Homo sapiens: one gene and its partner. The protein of the gene in region 1 interacts with the protein of each later gene in a pairwise test. Each region holds a gene or a part of one and is shown in the gene's direction. Other genes may lie near its edges.

The links. Proteins that work in one complex are often made in the same cells at the same time.
Region 2: the proteins of SNTG2 (region 1) and MIPOL1 interact in binary tests that used the Homo sapiens proteins (3 or more experiments, as listed by UniProt).

What each region holds. Positions count from the first base shown.
Region 1 is NC_000002.12:946,800-953,857, forward strand, and holds the start of SNTG2 (gamma-2-syntrophin), read left to right. Parts: upstream 1-4,049; 5' UTR 4,050-4,197; coding exon 4,198-4,269; intron 4,270-4,485; exon of another isoform or gene 4,486-4,593; intron 4,594-7,058. UniProt on the Homo sapiens protein: Adapter protein that binds to and probably organizes the subcellular localization of a variety of proteins. May link various receptors to the actin cytoskeleton and the dystrophin glycoprotein complex.
Region 2 is NC_000014.9:37,263,905-37,270,938, forward strand, and holds part of MIPOL1 (mirror-image polydactyly gene 1 protein), read left to right. Parts: intron 1-1,302; exon of another isoform or gene 1,303-1,377; intron 1,378-3,033; coding exon 3,034-3,265; intron 3,266-4,753; coding exon 4,754-4,889; intron 4,890-6,515; coding exon 6,516-6,621; intron 6,622-7,034.

The sequences.
Region 1 (7,058 bases):
GGTAACCAAGTGTGAAACAGGAAGGTAATAGGTCTTCCTTGCAGAAATAAGACTATGCCTGGAGGGGGAATAGGTTCAGTTAGCAAATCAAGCAATATAAAGGATGTTCCCACAAGGCTGTCAGTCCAGAAAGTATTTTAAGTTAATTCGAAAATGAAACCCAGCTGCGCATGGTGGCTCACGCCTGTAATCCCAGCACTTTGGGAGGCTGAGGCAGGCGGATCACCTGAGGTCTGGAATTTGAGACCAGCCTGGCCAACATGATGAAACCCTATCTCTACTAAAAATACAAAAAAATCAGCCTGGCGTGGTAGTGGGCGCCTGTAATCACAGCTAATCAGAAGGCTGAGGCAGGAGAATTGTTTCAACCAGCGAGGTAGAGCTTGCAGTGAGCCGAGATCGCGCCACTGCACTCCAGCCTAGGCGACAAGAGTGAGACTCTATCTCAAAATAAATAAATAAAATAAAAAATAAAAATAAAAATAAAAATAAAAATAAAAAAGAAATCATGCTAGTTTTGCTATCACATTTCAAACTGCAAACGTTACGGCTGCAGTGAGTGATAAGTGCCTATTTAAGACGGAAAAGACGCTGAACTTGTAGGTAGAAGACATGAGCGGAAAGGTGTTCCCACCGAGGGCACGTCAGCGCAGAAAGCACAATCCCATGGGAAGACTTCAGCAGTCAGTCCCCCAAAGTGAGTGACACTGAGCCATTCATGGCAAGTGAGGCATAGCTACACTGATTTAGGAGTGGGCTTGTCACGAAACCAAAAACCAAAAACCAAAAAACTGGAGAGGCTGTGTTTGCCAGTGAAGAAGCTGCTGCCATATTTCCGGCAGAGTTGAAGTTGATTAAAGGGAAAGGATGCCATCCAAAGCAAGTCTTCAATTGCAGTGAGACCAGGCTCCTCTGGAAGAAGATACCCAACAGAACCTACGTTCTTGAAAGGGCAAAGAAGGCCCCAGGGCATAAAACACTGAAGGGCTGATTTACCCTGTGCCGTGTGCAATGCTGTAGGACGTGTGGCCAAGCCAGGTGTGCTGCACACACAGAGGAACACTTATGCTCAAAAAACAAACGTTACCTGCTTGTGTTCAGGCAACATAACCAGAAAGCATGAGTGGTAACCACCATGTTTATGGAAGGGCTCCACCAGTACTTCCTCCCAAAGCCTTGGAAGGGGGAAGGTTGGAATATAAAGTCTCATTAGTAACAGACAATGTACCTGGCCATTCTGAATATGTTGACTATAAAAATGACAAGGCCAAGGTTGTATTATTATTAAGACCGGGTCTCACTCTGTCGCCCAAGCTGGAGCGCAGTGGCATGATCTCGGCTCAATGCAACCTCCGCCTCCAGGGTTCAAGGGATTCTCCAGCCTCAGCATCCCTAGTAGCTGGGACCACAGGTGCATGCCACCATGCCTGGCTAATTTTTGTATTTTTTTGTAGAGACGCGGTTTTACCATGTTGCCCAGGCTGGTCTCAAACACCTGAGCTCAAAGCAATCTACCTGCCTTGGCCTCCCGAATTGCTGGGATTACAGGTGTGAAGCACTGTGCCCGGCCTCAAGGTTGTATTTTTACCTTGAAATACAACCTCATTGCTCCTGCCTTTTGACCAGGGCATCTTCCAGTTTGTCTAGGCCACATACATCAGTTTGGTCAGCAATTGATGCATACATATATATGCATATATATATATATATATATATGCATGCAATTGATACATATATATATGCATGCAATTGATACATATATATACACACATACATAGTTCAGTACTATCCACGGTATCAGGCAGCCACTGGGGGTCTTGGAACATACCCATGAGGATGAGGGGTTACTGGAGTTTTTTGTACTACATTTAGAAAGTTTCTGTAAATTCAGAATTATTTCAAAGTTAAAAGTTAATAAAGAGACACTAACTGCAACTGGTTTTAGACACATCTCAGAATCAAAGCTATACTCATCACAAAAACCAGAAAGTTGAATTTTGGTAACCTCATGGGGGACATTCCCTCGCAGAGTTTCAGGATAGTCAGGGTTTTACTTTTTATTGTTATTGTTATTGCAGTAGAACCCTAGTATTTAAAATAAGCAAAATAACCCTTACGTGCAGTCCTGACACAGATGCATAAAAGCAGATAGGCAGTTAAAACTTGAATTAATTAGCCTTTCAAAAGCAGCCCCAGAGCGCCTACGACGTCCTGGAATCACAAAATTTTATTATAGAAAGGATTCCAGAGATTGTTAGCCAAAACTACATTATTTTACAAATGAATTAACAATTACCTTTGGTCTGAAAAACAAAAATATATGTGTCTATTCATTTAACGATAAAATTTTAACAAAAACTTGTCTCTCAAAGTCAACATTTATGCATGCAACACGCTGTTTTTCCTTCTTCAGGCCCTGGAATAGAATGTCCCTTTGCAAGGTAATGAGACAATATCTTTGTGCTATTTGTAGACATTTAATTTCTCAGAGATTATATGCACGCTCTTTTAAAAATGCAATTTAAAGGCAAACAATAATCTCTTGTACTTTTTCTTATTCTAGGTTTTGCTACAAATAAAAAGTAATACAATATTTTTTACCAATTCACCCAAGAAGCATATTTTGTAACAGCCACTGTGCCACGTATAAAAAGACCTGGTTTTTGCTATTCAAGAGCTTGTCCTCTGGTTAAACTGAGTGCTAAGAAGTGCTGGCAGACTGCCGTGAAGGTGAAACAGGAATACAGAGAATAGAGAAATGGGGAAGGGCGTCTGTGTTCGAAACCCAGGTCTGCTCAGGGGTCAAGCAAGTCGGAGTCAGAAAAAGTAAAGTGTTTAACATCGAGTTTTCAATATTTATTTGTTTACAATGCGTCACATTCTGCTCCTAGATAGGGTTAACCTCTGAAGACCTCAGATTTCGCTGCTTTTCCTTGCCGTGGAGAGGGAATAAAACGGGCATCGTGGCCTCCGCGATGGGCGCTCGTGCCTGGGTCGAAGGACTGGGGGGCGGAGGATTTGGAAAGGGAGAAAAATACGGGCTGGCTTCTTTTTAAAAAATGTGGGTAGCCTTGCCTGCCCCCGCCGCACTGGAATTTATCCTAAACTTACTTTCATTTACATTAAAACAAGACGATTTGAGTCTACCAAACCCAATACTGCATCTGTGAGGCTCCTTTTGGCACAAACCTGAATGAACAGCGGGAAACGCCGTCTCCCCTGGCGTCTGAGATCTGGGGTCCCCTCCCCACCTGGTCTCCTCGCTCCCGCCCCAGCCCCGTGCGCCCCAGGAGGGCACCGCCGAGCGCCGGGTCCCCGCAGGGTTCGGGAGACTCCGCGGACCGGAGGAGGGATAGGACCCCCGAGCTTTGGGGGCGGGAAGGGAGGGTGGAAGGAGGAGGGGAGCGGGGTTGGGGAAAGTTGGAGCTTCGGTATCTTTTCTCCGGGCCAGGCCGTCCTCGGGGCCCTGCGCTGCGTCTCCAAGTGCTGGGAAGACTCCGCGGGGAAAGGTCTGAGGACGCGGCCGGCTGGCACAGGTGTGGCGGCTTCAGAGGGCCGGGGAGAACCCATGGCTTCGAGGCTGTGGACTAGAAATGTCCCTGATTAGAAGCTGAGAACCTTTGGCCAGGGAGGTGGGGCGGCGGGGAGGGGTCGTCAAGCCGGTCCAGAGCGCGCCCACCTGCGCCACAAGGGAGAAGAGGTGCCCCCCGCCCCCCTCCGCCCACCGCCGCCACGATGCGCCGCGGACCTCGGCGACCCAGCCCGGGTAGAAGCGCGCGCTCCCCTCCTCCAGCCTCGTGCGCCGGCCCCTGCCCCGCCAGCCCCGCTATGGTCCCCCATCCACCCCCGCGGGAGCGCCCCTGTCCCCCCATCCTGCACTTCCCCCAGAGTCGCGCGCCAGTTTCCCGCCCCGTGGAAGCGCCCCTCTCCCGACTTCGGCTGATCCCCGCTCGCCGCCCTCCCCGCGGGTGCGCGCCCGGCCCCTCCCTCGCCCGGGGCGGGTCTGCGTGGGCGGTGCTCCGGGTCGGCGGGCGGAGCTCCGGTTCCCCAGCCCTGCGCCCCGGTGGAGCCCGAGCCGGAGCCGGCAGAGGGGCGCGGGCGCGGACGCGGCGCCTGGCGGGGCCCTGGGAGGCTCGGACGGGGTCCTGGCGTTGAGCTCGGCCGGCCCGGAGCGCGGACCCAGCCGCAGGGGCGGCGATGGGCACCGAGGGACCCCCGCCCCCGGCCGCCTCCCGCGGACGCCAGGGCTGCCTGCTGGTACCTGCGCGGGTGAGTGCGGCCCCTCAGCGCCCCTTCACCTCCGGCCCCCCTTCCCTCTCCTTCGCGCCCTTCTCCCCCCGCCCCTCCTCCCTCCACGCCCCCTCGCTCCCCGCGACCCCTTCCCTGTCTCCGGGGACGGCTGGCCGGAGGGTGGGCGCCGGAGCCCCGGGACGCAGTGGGCACCCGCCCCCTGGCCGCTCTGCTCCCTCCAGCCCAGTGTCTTACTGGAAACTTGCAGGCTTTGCTCCTCCAGCGTCTTCCAAGGTTTGGTTTTGAGGCGCCCGGGCTTCCCTTTACTGCGTGGGAAGTAGTGCTTTCCAGAATTTGGGATTTGAGATTGGCCCGGCATTGCTTCCCAGGAGCGGCTCTTTCGGGCCCAGGCGGTGGCTCGGACCGGAGCGTCCCCCCTGCAGCCTTCGGGCGCCCAGGCCAGGTCTGAGTTGGCCAGTTTGAGCCCAGCCAGGTGCATGGCGCGGCCTCGGCAGGTGCTGGGGGCTCTAGGCCATTCGGGGAACCGCTGGGACGCCAACTGGGTAATACGGATTTCTTTTTTGAAGTCTATTCTGGTTCCCACCCTAAATAACTCCCTCTTCACCTTCTTATTTTTAAATAACTAAACTATTGATTGACAGAAAACAGAAATGTTGGCCCAAAGAAAAACGAAAAGTTCTTGGAAACCTTCAAGTTGCCACCCACAGCACAGCCTCGAGTTGTGAAAACAGTTTAAGGGAGCACGTGGCCACCCCAGCCCTAGGAGGCTGCCGAGAAGCGCGGCTGTTAATGAAAATGCATTGACAACCACTCCTTTAGGATTCCTTCCCCAGGAGCTCCCAGTCCCAGGAGCGACCAGGAATACAGTTAGCCCTCCCTTATAGGACAGTGGAGAGACGGTTCAGAAGGCCACGGGTTGAGGGCTGCTACAAATTCCTATCGTCATAATAATGATTCTAAACTAGGACTGTGGTCGTCGCTACTGTGATGTTAAAAAGATTTCTATGTAGAGACAGGTGCATCTTCATTCAAGTAGCACCTTTCTGGGCTTTTACTACAAAATATGAAAATTAAATTTCATGTAAAATGTGGGTGTTCGTTTCTTGAAGTACTTTGTAATATGAATAGCTATCCCACTGTTGCCCATGGTAATCAAACCCGAGAAAATATGCGGGGATTACCTGGAAATAAACCGCAGTAAAAACTGCAGGCGCTGTGGAATCACAGGCTTTCCGTCTGGTCACTGCCTTCAGCTTTATAATGATGCCCTCCCACGGTTAGGGATTGTGCATTTTTCTCCAGACATTCGAGCAAAGCAATTCTTGCTTTTAATCATTGTAATTATAGCGGAAGCGTTGAAGTGGATTCATCATACTTCATGATTGACCCACTTGATGAGTTATTGGCAATAACGTCAACAAATAAAGCAACTGCGCGTATTCTAGTAAATGCTCTCCTTTGCGCTCAGTATTAATTAAGGTGCTAAATTTGATGTTTTCCAGTCAAGAGTGGCCTCTGCTCACCTGTTTGCTACAAGATGTGATTGGCGCTTTCTTTCTAATAAGGACCTTGATTATTTGAAACAGCCTGTCTGAATTGTATTGAAAGAAACTTTTTTTTTAGCGTTGGAGGCCAAGTATTACAATAAGATGGAGCATTTTAAGAGCAAGACTCCTAACTTTGCAGTCATAAGTAATTAGGTATGTGCTAAGCCTACCTTAGACACCAGTGCATGGTCATGTTAGCTCAGATTCTTATGTATTTAAAACGAATCTGTTAAGTATTGGTGTTGGCAGGTTTGTCTTGAAAACATGAATGTTCTTAGTATACAATGTCATCCTTACTTAATGGCAGAATTATTTTCTTACCATAACTGCACAATATTATTCAACTTGTGTAATTATTTAATCATTTCAGTTAAGAGAACTTGGTGCTTTTAACTAGAAAAAGATGAAAGTCTTTTCTAAATCTTATATTTCTAGTTATATTTTTTCTATCTGAAGTCAAAACTATACACATTCTTTATCATGACTGCTTGTTTGAATCATGGAATTTGGCCACGTTTGAAGGTCTCCTGTTCGGTAACAGACCTGTTTTGTTTCCCCTTTCAAGTGCCTGTTCCCGATGTTTTTTTCTAAGTTAAGTGAGTTCATGGAGCTCTGTCTCTGACCATACCTGGATTTGAGGGGTAAAATCCCACTGGCAGACAACCTCAGTACAATGTGCGAAGTGTGTCTTGCTTGTAGCTTCAAAGACTACTATTGGTTGATGTTTACAGCACATTTGCTGCTTTTAAATGACAACACTTCTTCAGTCTGGGGCGCTGGAAGAATTATTGGCATGAGCCGGGAACATGCCCATTTATGTGATGAGCTTGCCCACTGAAGGGGGAAAGCACGTTAGGTCATTTTAAAGGTGCATGTGGGGTAAGGGCACCACCTAATCATCTGTTTACAGATGTGAATTGCTGCATGAGATGAATGAAGCATCTGAGCTCCTAAGAAGGTTCCCCATTCCTTCTATGCTTTGGTTATGTTTCTCATCCTTGCTGACTCATCTTTAATTTCAACTGTAGAATTTCTATTGACGTCTATGACATCATAAGCAAAATCCATGCATTACAAAGCAGGCAGTTACCTGACTTTACCAGGAGACATGGAGACATGTTCCCCAGTAAATATTTGAATGAGGTCCAATTAAGAAAAGTGTGCCTTGTTTTTGTTTTTGTTTTTTTCCAACATGGGATGTTAAAATTGCCTTGTTTTCTGAATGGTGTATGTGGAGCAACAGCTTCTTGTCTCTGGATA
Region 2 (7,034 bases), on another chromosome or scaffold:
TCTTTCTGTTTAACATTTGTCTTATCTTTTAAATTGACTAATATGCAAAACAGACCAATAGCTTCACTTTAATGGCATTTTATTGGCTTGTGTTTATATTTCTGTATGCAGTTCTTTTTAAAGTGATGGGGCAATACAAATAAGCTCAGCTAAAGCTCTTAGTAGCTTCGTCTCATTATTGCTTCATAAAGATCCTTCTCCTGGGCTGGAGAGTTTAGGGAAAATAACTGAAGTCTGAACTTAGAGTTACTAACTGCTTTCATCTTCTCTTGGTTAGAAAAGGTACTAATTCAGAAATAAATTTGGGCTATGAATAAGGTAAAGAAAATTAGGCAAAATGCAAGATGATAGAGCAGTATCTTAAAATTTGTCTTGAAAAGTCAAAGTGTTTCATGCCTGTTGCTTACTCACTAATGTTTCAGAAAAAAAAAAATTGTAAGGTCAGGCATGGTGGCTTATGCCTGTAATCCCAATACTTTGGGAGGCAGAGGCAGGAGGATTGCTTGAGCCCAGGAGTTTGAGACCAGCCTGGGCAACATGGCAAGACCCCATCTCTGAAAAAAAAAAAATTAGTGAGGCATGGCAACACAGCACACAGCTGTAGTCTCAACTATTCGGGGGGCTGAGTTGGGAAAATTGCTTAAGCCCGGGAGGTCAAGGCTGCAGCGAGCCATGATTGTGCTACTGCACTCCAACGTGGGTGACGGAGCGAAACCCTCTCAAAAAAAAAAATTGTGTAGATAGTTATAGAAAGAATGGTTAATAAAGCAAGCATGATAAAATGTTAATATTTGGGGAGTCTAGGTAAAGGGCATACAGTAATTCTTTGTTTTGCAACTTTCTTATGAGACAAATTATTTCAAAATGAAAAGGTACAAATGAAGGATTATCTAATGTCAGTTTTTGTCGGCTTTCTCATTTAGCTTGCTTCTGCAGTCATTGAAATCTTTGATGTTTGGCTCTCATTTCTTCTCTCCATTTTCTGCCATTTTTCTGGATGACTTCAATGCCTTCAAAGGTGGTACTTTCAGCACTTTGACTTTTTGATTTTCTCCACTCCAAGTATGTTCACTTTTAATTTATTTCATCAACTCATTTCCAGATGAGCCATACCTTGGACTTTGTCCTTAATACTGATTTTAGAAATTTTCTTCCGACTATAACATCTTGTCATTTCAATACAAGAAATGTCTCTTCATTTTTCCTAAATTTATTTCTTCTCCTCTATATCTATTCCTATTCTTCCTATTTTTATAGTCTATTAACTTTTTATTTCATCTAACTCTGGCTATCCTTTGGCAGTTTGCTACTTCGCATATCCCTACTTGACCTTTTTTGGAGCAAATGCCTTTGTGAAGTCTTCCTAGAGTCTTCCAGGTGAGCATTAGTATGTCTAGCATATTGTATGTATTTGGCCTCCATAGCCCAAGCATAGTCCTTATTATACTGTATTCAGATCATTAGATGAGTTTGCCATCCTCACTGTACTAGAGAGTCTTTGAGTGGAGTGTTTGTTTCTTATTCATCTTTGTTTTCCCAGTAGCTACCACAAGACATACCACACTGTAAGTTTTCAATGAACGATCAGTAAATTAATGAATAAATAAATTAGAAGAGTCAAACTTTTTATACAAATGTTTGAATACTAATATAGTGTAACGCAGGATGGCAGAGAGGAGAGCATTGAAAGCCTTCAGAGGATTTAACATTGATTTGCTGGAATCATACTTGCCAAAATAGTTGGTCAAAAAAACAAGACAGGCAGGAAAATTTTTATAAGTCAGCCATGTGTATTCTAAAGTAAAATTAAATTCTCAGACTGGGAGTCTGAGGTGGGAGGATTGCTTAAACCCAGGAGTTTGAGGCCAGCCTGGGCAACACTGCAAGATCCTGACCTAAAACATTTTTTTTAAATAAATTTTCAGTAGAAGAGTATGGATAGTCTGATTTGCAGAGCAGGCTCCAAATTTCTGATGAGCCTTTTGAAATAGAAATCTGAAAGCTTTTACTACTGAACAAAATGAGAAATATCCAGAAATAGAGCCATGTCACACAGTATGGGTTCTTTAAAAATATTAAACATTTATAATTAAATTTTAGAATGGAAGTCTGGAGTGTGTCAGAAATTGATGGATTTATTGTAATAAAACTTCAAGGGGTTATAATTACTAAGACCCAGGAGGGATCAACACAGAGTCTTCTTATTAGGAAGCTCTTATTGGGAAGCTTCTGCATCTCCTCTAAGATTGAAGAAGATAGTGTGGTCACAAGTTAAATAGTGGTAATTTATCAAGAGTTCAGGGGATCACAAAATTTCACATTAGGTTAAAGCCAAAGAAAGAGAACTATAAAACTAGTAAACAACCATTTACATTTGACAGTTTTAGGAACAGATACATCTGAAGATTACTTGTTCATTCTTGACAGCTCAAAATGCTTACTTGGTTTGCATTAGATGGTCACCATGCTAGTTTTCTGTAATAGGCTGGCATTAGTATAATGAAACTCTTAAAATCTGAATGACAAAAGTTTATAAACGGGCACTAAGGAAAGCCTCTATATCATTAACAGACCATGCTTTCTAACACTAACATAACATTGTAAGTAACTCAAATGAAAAGCAATCAGAAATAGTTACTGAAAGCATTATCAAAATAACAAACATTGCCCCTAGGGACATATTTTTAAAAAACTCTTAGGCCCCACATTCTTCAGTTTATGAAGTGCCATATTTCTTCAAAAGGAAAAAGGATGGTCCATGGACCACTGCCAACTATAAAAGCCCCCAGGTCCCCATGACAGCCCCACAACTGCTTCAGACTCTTAAGTCCCAACTCTTTTTGGCCTATTTGAGACCAAATTTACCATTATCTACAACTTATCCCAATGCTTATCTGATTACAGTAGGAGTAAGACTAGAAACTATATGTTTAAAGCTAAAGAGTGTTTCCAAAAATATTTATTTGACTGAATGATTTAATATGCAGTTATGGTGTTTAATATATCATGTGTTATTTGTTTGTTTAAATACAGACATAACCCACAGTTATCTTGAACAAGAAACTACGGGGATAAATAAAAGTACGCAGCCAGATGAGCAACTGACTATGAATTCTGAGAAAAGTATGCATCGGAAATCCACTGAATTAGTTAATGAAATAACATGTGAGAACACAGAATGGCCAGGGCAGAGATCAACGAATTTTCAGATCATCAGTTCTTATCCAGATGATGAGTCTGTTTACTGCACTACTGAAAAATACAAGTAAGTGCTCACAGCCTTAGATTTAGAAGGAATTGGGGCCAGGCGTGGTGGCTCATGCCTGTAATCTCAGCACTTTGGGAGGACGAGGTGGGTGGATCACTTGAGGTCAGGAGTTCGAGACCAGCCTGGCCAACATGGTGAAACCCTGTCTCTACTGAAAATACAAAAATCAGCCAGGTGTGGTGGCACATGCCTGTAATCCCAGCTACTCAGGAGGCTGAGTCATGAGAATCGCTTGAACCTGGGAGGCGGAGGTTGCAGTGAGCTGAGATTGTGCCACTGTACTCCAGCCTAGGCAACAGAGCAAGATTGTCTGAAGAAAAAAAAAAAAAGAGAAAGTTAGAATTGGAAGAACTTTTTCTCCCTCCCTTCTTCCCTTTCTTCCTCTTTCCTTCTTTCTTTTTGGTGTTGGCTAATTCTAAACTTATTAGAACTTGGCGAATCTACCAGGGTTTTCTACTGTTTCCATGGTATGGATATAATATGTCTAGTTAACTAAGTGAAAAAGCACAAAGTGCATCTGAAGAAAGACAGGTTTAATTCTATTTTATTCAATATTATTTTCTGTGACCTTTCTTTATGTATTTGGAAATAACTGTTAAATTGATATACATGACATATCATTCATGAAAGTAAAAAACTGGCAGCTCCAGGACAAGGTAAGCCCAAACATGCATTTTGGTTTGGGTTAGCGCTATTTTTCATTTAAATGAATTTGATGCTTTTAAAAGGGCCTTGTTCTCTACCATTTGCATTCCTCATTATTTTACTTTCTCAGCTTTTACCCAGTAACCTTGCCTACCTAGCTCATGAAAGGATTTGAATTTGTGATACCTGATACTTCTACCCATGAGATTAAGGAACTTTGATAATTAGTCATGTGCTAGAAAAATATTATTAGATTTAAAAAGAAGTTTCAGTGACTAATATATTTTCAGTCTAGACAAAATAATATTTTGCAGCATACTATTTTTAACAGATTTTTGCATAGGAACTTTTATTCTACTTTCAAATTATTCAGTAGATATGTTAATAGATAGTAACATATAATGAAATAGATGTATTGATATGTTCCCATCCCTTTTTCAGATTCTTACTAAGGTGTAGGTTGGAGTCCCTTTTGAGGAGTAGAAGCACAGAAGAATGAAGTAGGGATAAACATTTTATAACCACATGGGTAAAGTAAATAGTAGAGATTGGGCTAAAGTCAGATTATGAGATATCTAGCATAATTACAACAGGAGATGTACGTGGTAAATAGAGCTGCACTGACTGTCCCAGCCGTCACTAAATTTCTTCTTAGTGACTCCAAAATTTACCTGTGCTTACAAATTTAATATAAGGCCTTCAAAAAAACAGCCCATCTCTTTTCCTTTCCCTTCCTTTATGGTGTTTGCTTACAAGTTGATACTGTTCTCAAGTAGCATACAAAATGTCAAAAAATTAGTTTATCTTACTCTGAAATGTTAATCAGTTTCTTTATTACAGCGTTATGGAACATAGACATAATGATATGCATTATGAATGTATGACTCCTTGTCAAGTTACTTCAGACTCAGATAAAGAGAAGACAATAGCATTTCTTCTAAAAGAATTGGATATTCTCAGAACAAGCAATAAAAAGGTATAATATGGAAAGTCTGATAATTGTATAGTATGGGTTTAGCTGTTGATCTTCTAAATTTCCTTTGTTGCCCATCATAATTCAGTTTTATTTTGCACTTTAATCATTTAACAGTAGCTTTATGTTTTTGCCATACCTTGCCATCAGGGTATGGTTGAGTTAAGGGGTTGAAAATGAAAGCATTTTTTTGATTTCATACCTTGCTGGTCCACATTAGCACTTCCTTTTTCATAAGCCCCTGGTTCCTTGTATACATATCTTTAAAAAAAAAGATTCAAGTTTTAGTAAAACTCTGCTTCAGTATTATAGAGAATGGGAGATAGAATGCACTGGTTTCATGTTACTATCTTAATTTTTTTTTCTTTATTAGTATCCATGCCCTATATTTGACCTCAATAATACATGTAATTAAACATTTCAGTAGCAAGGCTTGGCAATATTGTCATTTACCTTGTGTTAATCTTATACTGCTGCATTTTGTCCAGTCCAATTTGTCACGTTATGTTTTATCTTCTGTTCTGACTCTTATTCTAGTTATAGTCATGTGATCATTAAATAATTTTATTAAATAATGTGCATTTTCTGTGTCTTCTTTTTTTTTTAACCTCTACATACTGCTCTGATTTTAATATTCTAGTTGTGTAACCTAATCAAACTGAAGCATGATGTTAGGAATGTTGATCATGTTTGGAGGAAAACAACTAAAATGACAAAAACCTAGGGAGGAATTAAAAAAACATGTGGAGGGATTCTGTATGAGATGTTTTCTGTACTTTCATTTAGCAGTTATTTATTACATGCCACTTATGAGTCAGGTGTCAGTGTCAATTTAAATGGAATATGATGGGGTAGTATTCTCAAAGGGAGATTTGTATCAGATATTAAGATTATTGTCTTAATTTTGTTTCAGAATATTGGATTTACTAAGATAAACTGTAAAGCAGTGCTATCTGTTATTTTATTAGGCAAATCCCTTCCAAATATTTTGCATTAAGAAAAAAGGATGAATGAGACTGCTTTTGCAGTAGTCATTATTATTATTATTTTTTTTGAGATGGAGTTTCACTCTTGTTGCCCAGGCTGGAGTTCAATGGCGCGATCTCAGCCCACTGCAATCTCCGCCTCCTGGGTTCAAGCAATTCTCCTGCCTCAGCCTCTCGAGTAGCTGGGATTACAGGTGCCCGCCACCACACCTAGCTAATTTTTTGTATTTTTAGTAGAGACGGGGTTTCATCATGTTGGCCAGGCTGGTCTCAAACTCCTGACCTCAGGTGATCTGCCCACCTCGGCCTCCCAAAGGGCTGGGATTACAGGCGTGAGCAACCACATCTGAACTGCAGTAGTTATTTTTAAGAATAATGTTGGTCCTCTGAATTTAATTTGCCTGTTCATGCACATATACACATAAATTAAGTGTATATTGGGATGTTTTTACAATTTCTGTATAACTACAGGTAATTATTACTTTATAAATAACTTAAATTTTAAATTTTTTTCTGGAGTTATCTATCTAGGAAGTTAAATATAATATAAGAATTAAGAAAAAACCAAAAACTTTGAAATTAATTATATTTTTGCAAGACATTTGTCAAATAAGAATCCATGATTTTTTTCAATGTGCTTTAGCTTCAGCAGAAATTGGCTAAAGAAGATAAAGAACAGAGAAAACTAAAGTTTAAGCTGGAACTCCAAGAGAAAGAAACAGAAGCTAAAATTGCTGAAAAGACAGCAGGTATAGTAGAGGAGTATTAACACATGGCTTGAAGAATCACACACAAGGTTATTATATGATGTATCTTGGTGAATACTAGCATACTGGCTTATTTGCCAAAGGAGGGGAAGCTCTCCTTTTTTTTTTTTTTTTTTTGGCTGCTTAGAAAATAGGTGGCTTTAACATCCTGGTACTGGTATTAGTGAGAGCTTTACCTGTATTCATACTGATTTGGGCATTAAATGCATTGTTAACACCATGTCAATCCAATCACAAAAAGGTTGTTTGTTTTGTTGGAAGGGGCTGAACAAACAAGGGGAAATAATGATTACCAGTGCCTCTACCTTTCAACCAGCAGTTCAAATACCACTTATTGTTTTAGCTCGTTGAGAGGAAATACTTCTCCTTTGTATGAAGATAGTCACATATTCATT